Linked DNA regions of Homo sapiens. The protein of the gene in region 1 purifies or fractionates together with the protein of each later gene. This does not show direct contact. Each region holds a gene or a part of one and is shown on either strand. Other genes may lie near its edges.

What was found.
Region 2: the proteins of SLC25A17 (region 1) and PTGFRN purify together in Homo sapiens (affinity purification with mass spectrometry; one large-scale study listed by BioGRID and IntAct). This does not show direct contact.

Annotation. Positions count from the first base shown.
Region 1 is NC_000022.11:40,812,704-40,816,524, forward strand, and holds part of SLC25A17 (peroxisomal membrane protein PMP34), read right to left. Parts: intron 1,256-3,821; exon of another isoform or gene 1,180-1,255; intron 1-1,179.
Region 2 is NC_000001.11:116,940,603-116,944,423, reverse strand, and holds part of PTGFRN (prostaglandin F2 receptor negative regulator precursor), read right to left. Parts: intron 2,710-3,821; coding exon 2,341-2,709; intron 1-2,340. UniProt on the Homo sapiens protein: Inhibits the binding of prostaglandin F2-alpha (PGF2-alpha) to its specific FP receptor, by decreasing the receptor number rather than the affinity constant. Functional coupling with the prostaglandin F2-alpha receptor seems to occur.

The DNA.
Region 1 (3,821 bases):
TAGAACAGAAAGATTATTTTAAAGCCAGACACGGTGGCTCACACCTGCAATCCCAGCACTTTAGGAGGTGGGAGAATGGCTTGAGCTCAGGAGATTGAGGCTGCAGTGAGCTGTGATCATCCCACAGCACTCCAGCCTGGGAAACACAGTGAGACTTAGTCTCAAAACAAATAAAAATTTAAAAAAATTTTTAAAAACCACCTAAGATGTTTTCTGTGGTTTGAGCTAATAAAATTCTAAAGATTAAAAGCCACTTACAATGGCTTTCATATTTAAAAATGTTATTCACCTCATCAGAGTTAATGTAAGTCTTTTCCCTGACATAACAATCAAGCTAACTCATACATACACAGACAGATAGGCAAGTTACACAAATGGCCTCATGGATGACACTCTCGAGTGTTTAGGGATAAAATATAGGTTTACGTCCCAAGTATAGTATATATTACATAAGTAACTTCAAATCTCTATGTCTCAATTTCCTCATTTGTAATTTTGAGACCGGTATTTGTCAAGGTTGCTATGAGAAGTTAGAATCAAATTATGGAAAGTAGCTGGGCATGGTGGCTCACACCTGCAATCCCAGCACTTTGGGAGGCTGAGGTGGGTGGATCACTTGAGGTCAGGAGTTCGAGACCAGCCTGGCCAACACGGTGAGACCTCATCTCTACTAAAAATACAAAAATGAGCCAGGAGTGGTGGCACACACCTGTAGTCCCAGGTACTCTGGAGGATGTGGCAGGAGAATCACTTGAACCTGGGAGGCAGAGGTTGCAGTAAGCCGAGATCGTGCCACCGCACTCCAGCCTGGGTGACAGAGCGAGACTCTGTATAAAAAAAAAATACCCTCTCTATTAAAAATACAAAAAGATTAGCCGGGTGTGGTGGCAGACACCTGTAGTCCCAGCTACTCGGAAGGCTGAGGCAGGAGAATGGCGTGAACCCAGGAGGCGGAGCTTGCAGTGAGCCGAGATCACGCCACTGCACTCCAGCCTGGGCGACAGAGCGAGACTGAGTTTCAAAAACAAAAACAAAAAATTATGGTTGGCACCTAGCATCATACCAGGCACACAGGTGGCACTCAACAATTGTTGGTTTCTACATGTCCTTTATAGCTATAGTATCTGTTAGTAGTAGAAACCACTGTTAATTTTAGGGCCCTAAAAGGAGTAATGTCTTCTCAAGTTCCTTCCAAAAGAGCAATTGCTATTTAGTAAAAAATAAACACCAACTGCTCTTTCAGAAGGAGCTTCAGAAAGGTAGAAGGGTCAACAGTATAGAATACTTACAAAGAACTGGAATCAATTAAGAATGCAAAAACAGTCAGTAGATGTATAGAGCACTCTTGACATAAGTAACTCCATCTTAGAAAAAGACTCCTATCTTTCATTTCAAAAAGCACTTTGACAACAGGGACCAGATGTTTTTCCAGATAAAGACACAACCAAGCATGCTCTTCCACTATCAGTCCTTACCAGAAGACTCTGTGACCATAAAAAGAACAGGACTTAAAAAACTCAAAATGGTCTTAACAGACACTGTCTTGCTGTCACTTGTTATAAAAGCCTGATATCTGTGTCCAAAGGCTCTGCCCACATCAAGGATTCTTTCTTACAAGACCAACACACTGCCATGATGAAACCAGGATACTTGTCTATATCACTCTCCCCGGACTGGTTAGGTAACCCTTTTTCCTCACCCTTTTCTCTTGATGTTCAATGTTACTTTGTTGCAGAATGTTTAATCTACATCATTTATGTATTAATTAGGTATACTATTATATATGATTTACAATATTGACTGACTACCTAGTGAATGAGAAGTACTAATAAAAATTGCCTCCTTGAGAACTCCATGTAACTTGTCTTTTATAACTGAAATAACACAATAAAAGTCTGACATTGTGAAAAGACACAAATGTGTGTGTACCTGGTTATCCATGACCTTAAACCATTCACAATAGTAGATTAAGCTGTTAGGAAGTCAGAGTTGACCTTTGGAAGAACAGTTCCAGTGGTCAAAGTAGGATGAGGAAAGGCAGTACGTGCAGAATATATATATATATATATATATATATATATATATATTGTTGTTGTTGTTGTTGTTTTGTTTTGTTTTGGTTTTTTTTGTTTTTGAGACGGAGTCTTGCTCTGTCGTCCAGGCTGGAGTGCAGTGGCGCAATCTTGGCTCACTGCAAGCTCCACCTCCCGGGTTCATGCCGTTCTCCTGCCTCAGCCTCCCGAGTAGCTGGGACTACAGGCGCCTGCCTCCATGCCCGGCTAATATTTTGTATTTTTAGTAGAGATGGGGTTTCACCGTGTTAGTCAGGATGGTCTCGATCTCCTGACCTCGTGATCTGCCCGCCTCAGCCTCCCAAAGTGCTGGGATTACAGGTGTGAGCCACCACACCCGGCCCAGAATATTCTTTAAATAAGCTTAGCACAAAGGGAAAGAGAACAGGCAGAGGCTGAAGAAGCTACCAGATTCCAGATCAGATTGGTATAGTTTTCTGATGGGACAGACCTGACCATGTTTGAGGGCTGAACAGAAGCAGATACTAGGTTAAAGCTATAGGAAAGAGATGAAAATTACTGGAGCAAAGTCCTGGAAGAAAACTGGCCATGGGCTGGAGGGGAGGACAAAGATTGAAGGTAGCAGACACTGAATATGTCTATTTTTCCTCTGAGACCAGCAGAATGTAGAAAACACGAGTACAACTGTAATTGGAAAAAACTGAAAAAACTCATCCCAAGTAGGTTCTATTTTATCTAGAGAGTAAAAGGTAAGATCATCTGCAACAAGTGAAGGGAATGGGTGGAGATGGCCATGAGGCAAGAGAACATTTCAATTCCCTTAAATTTCTAAAACTAGGTATAAGTGCTGTATTTGCAAGAATATACTTGAGACAGAAATGAATAATTATGGTCTTACTACAACGTTCCATTATGCTAGATGCTCCACAAATATAATCACATTTACTTCCCACAAGAACCCAGTTAAGTGAGGCATTGTTATTGTCCCTGTTTTATAGTTCGATTGATGATGGCATTCATAGTTAAGCTTTACTACAGAACCTTTTTTTTCAGCTATTATGCCATATTTGCTTCTTAAAAAATTAAGTTATACAATACTATGTATGACGATATAATTTCATTAATCGTTTTTGATTCAGGCATAAACAAAGTTAGAAAAGTAATTCCAGGCCAGGCGCAGTGGCTCACGCCTGTAATCCCAGCACTTTGGGAGGCCAAGGCAGGCGGATCACCTGAGGGCGGGAGCTCAAGACCAGGCTGACCAACATGGAGAAACCCCGTCTCTACTGAAAATACAAAATTAGCCAGGCGTGGTGGCACATGCCTGTAAACCCAGCCACTCGGCGAGAGGCTGAGGCAGGAGAATCGCTTGAACCCAGGAGGCGGAGGTTGTGGTGGGCCGAGATTGCATCACTGCACTCCATGCACTCCAGCCTGGGCAACAAGAGCGAAACTCCATCTCAAAAAAAAAAAAAGAAAGAAAGAAAGAAAAAGAAAAAAAGAGAAAAATAGGCAACAAGTGAAAAAAAGAAGTATCTTTGTAGATTAAATAGAAATATATTACCACTATTGCCAGTCACTCTCTCTATAGCAGGAGTCAGAAAACTATGGCCTATGGGCCAAATCCAATCTAATATCTGTTTTTGAAAACAGTATTTTATTGGAACACAGCTCTGTCCATTCATTTACTGTCTACAGCTGATTTCACACGACCATGGCAATGTTGGGTAGCTGTGACAACGGTACACAAAGCCTAAAATATTTCCCATCTGCTCTCTTTAAAAAGTT
Region 2 (3,821 bases), on another chromosome or scaffold:
TGTGATGTGCTTCTGCTACCCTTAAGGCAAGTTACTTTACCCCTCTGTGCCTCAGTTTCCTAAAAGGAGGATGACAACTGGACCTTCGTCATAGAGTTGACATGAGAGTTAAGTTAAACAGGGTAAGTTCCCAGGACCGTGCCTGGCACTCAGCTGTCATGATAAATCATTGGGTATGACTGTCAAACATTTCTTTGCTTAGGACCAGGGCTAGGCTAGGGAGCCCGCAGAATCTGCAGATAAGGTGACCTTCTAGACTTAAAGTAGCAAGATCCACAGGGGAGAAAGGATGGCATGAGCTGCCTGTGGCTTGCAGCCTGGGGAATGCCCAAGAATGTCTAGGGTGAACACAGCATATCCACATGATAGGAACAGGCCCAGACACTTCTACAGAGTCTAGAAAAAGGGGACGGCGATCAAGGAAGTATGGGTGGTGTACTCAGGAAAAAAGCAGTAGATGGATACTGCTATTCTGGTAACCAGAAAGGGGGCCACTACCAAGCAGCAGGGAAAAATCTATCAGGCTTATCCATGAGCTGGCTAAGAGGACCCTCCAACACCACTATTCATCATCTGTTTTTTTTTCCCCCCAATTCCATATTCAGAAACTAATTCAGTGTCCTTGAGAAGGGGCTATTCTAGATAACATTTAAAAGCTGCTACATTTTTAGGAGGACACATCCTGAAGACCCATCTCTACTGCAAAATAAATATAATGACCTTCTAGTATATGTATCAGTCTGTGAGTCTGGCTAATATGACTCAGTTCTCAAGGCCAGCTCATCTCTCAGAGCACAGATGAATAGTTTCAAGAGCCATGAAGCTGAAGGCCGGGCAGATCCTGGACCACACATGGCAACCATCAGAGGCTCCACCTGGGCAGCAGTCAGTCTCTCTCATGGTCATCCATTGCTTTCCTCACCCAAGAAAGGCCTCCTCTTGTGTCTCCTGCCTTCCAAAGACAGCAGAAGAGGCTGAAAGATACTGGAGGAAGTGGGGTGCGGGTGGGGGAATTCTCCCCTTACTCTCCCTCCCACTCAAGAGGAGACTCCAAGGGGATACAAGGGGGCATCTGGCTTAATGAAAAAGTGGCATGTGGCAATATTTAGCTCCAATACAAGAGTGTCTTTTTCTAAATAACATGTTCTGAATTTTCTATAGGAATAAAGAGGTAGATGGGGTGTTTCATTACCTCCTTAATGGACAGTTTTATCCCCTGATGAGTCTAGTGAGGGAACAGTCTCTGAGCTATGGCAGGGTTCTACAAGTCATGAGGGAATGAATGCCTCAATCAACCCTCGCTTTTTATATCATCATGTGCATTTTCTACTTTCTGATAATTACATACATTCTGACCCAGACATAAATCCTTTTGGGAACAAGGCAGGGTACAAATAAATGCATAATTAAGTAACAATAACAACAATTATAATGTTTCTATTTTCTTAGCCCCAAATTAAAATGGTTTGTTCTTGCTCGTTTACTAATTAGCTGTGTGATTTTAGGAAAGTAATTAACCTATGCTCTTCCATTTCCTCATGTATAAATTAGGGAAATATTCTGCCCTATTTTGATTGGGTTCAGAGAATTGAATGTGTGAGTAAATCTAAAAGGACTTGGAAAATGAAACAAACAAACAAAACCCCCAAAACAAATCCCAAAACATTCCAGGTACATAAGGTGTAATATTTGCAAAGCTAGGTCAATAAGCTAGCAGAGACCACATTACATATAACACATAAAACATCTGGTACAAACAAGTACTTAAATCATGAAAGCCACAGAGAAAGACATGAACTTTGAAGTGCCTGTGATTCCCATAAACCTGAGCATCATTAACATGACCATCCCCTTCCTGTCACTAACCACTGAATGCTTACATGGCACTGCTCTAAGGCTTTACACCTGGTAACTCAGCTGTCCTCACAACCTTTAAGGTTACAGAGGAGGAAGCTGAGGCATGTAACATGCCCACAGCCATGCAGCTGACAAGTAGTAGAGCCAGCAACTGGACCAAACAATCACAGGCAACCTGGCTCCAGAGCCAGCTCTCCACCACCGCATCATGCTGCCTCCACCTCACTGGGCATAGGGTGGCTCAGAACCATACCGGAGTGAAGAGAAAGGGCCCTCTGAGGTCATCTGGCCCATCCCCTGCCTTTAATCAGATAACAATGATTTTTAAATTTTAAGACATGATTATTTAAGACATGATTATTCCCCTGGACAGAGGAGGGAGCAGAGCCTCAGAGAAATTAAGTCTCTTGACAAAGTCCACCACAGCCCAGGGGCAGAGAAAGGTCTGGCCCCTGGCATAACAAGCCCATGTGAGGACTGTACCTTTAACCTGCACTGTGTCCTCATAGTTTCCCTGGACAGTGGCATCTGTGCTGGGGGTTGAACATTTGTAGTGGCCTTGGTCTGAAGGCTGGACGTTCTTTATGTGGAGCTCCACGGCGTCGTTGGCAGTCCGCCTTAACAGGATCTCGCCCCTCTGCAGCCGCTCCTGGTACAGCTGGGCTGGGAACCCCACCTCCCAGGTGCTTGCAAGCTCCACAAAGCTGCTCCCCAAAGATGAGAAGCTCCAGTCAAAGTTTTGCTCGCTGGGGCCATCATAGTCACTGACGTTGCAGGGGATGACCAGCTCAGTGCCCACCACTCGAACCAGGGTCGCTGTGGGGACTCTCACCACACGCCCTCGGCAAAGAGCTGCAATGATAAAAGATGAAAGGCAGGTCTTTAATCACAGAAAGTCTTCCCAGGACAAATGTGGCAAACCTGTGGATGCTCCTGCTCACAGGCATGGCAGAAACGTGACAGCCAAACTACTAGGGAAAATGTATCTATGCAGAAGGTTAAGCCTAACCCTTAAATAATGAGCCAGGAATGCAACCTCAAAATGAGCATCTCTCACACAACCAGTTTCCCAGGACCAACAGGGAGGAAGATAAGCATTAAAAGCAGGCTAACTGTAAACCTCAATAGCTTCTTCCCTCCAGTTACTATTTAACACACCCTAACCACTCCATGTGATGTAAAAATATTTTAGGTTTTGTGTGAAATAAAAGGGCACAGCCAGTCAAGTGTTTACATTTCTGCCCAGCCATCAGCCCTCATCCCTAGAGACCATTCCCTGGGGCTCCTGAGACCTGATTTACAATGACGGATGCCAATTTTTAAATCCTAGAGCAGCCTGCTGATAAAATGATTTAACTCCTGTTATCTGACATTGCCTATAAATTAATTTTAAAATATGATGATTTTACCAAGTATTAATTTTCTATTTTCTGGCTCATTTCCTTCTCTACTCTTTGTTCTGATCTAAATTCAGAATGAGGATGTGGAAGCACAAAGGGAGAGAGGCAGGTTGGTTGCTGGGTGTTCTTAGGAATGCAGCAGCTGGTTGCCGGGTATAAGCCCAGTGGACACAGGCAAGACTTCACTGGTTTTCCCTTCCCTAAGAGTGTGCAATTCCCAGCCCTCTCTGGTAGGGACCCTACAACTGGCACCTGTGAGTCCTTTAAGATGTCTTCATTGCAATGAACTTCAGCATGATTTTGCAGTGTATTTACTACCTGTTTAGCATTTCAATTGCACCAAATAAACACATATAGCTCCTTTGTGATGTTCTTGCAATAACATATAAAAGAGAAAGCATGTCTGAAATCAAGGAGACCTAAGTTGCAATCTGAGAGACCTCTCTTACCTTTGACTTCTGCCACTATGAATTGGGACAAGGCAGCTTCACTGAGTTAATGAAATAAAATGTCTAGGTGAGAGTCTACCATGTAATAAGGGCTCCAGGAAATGGGAACCTTTTA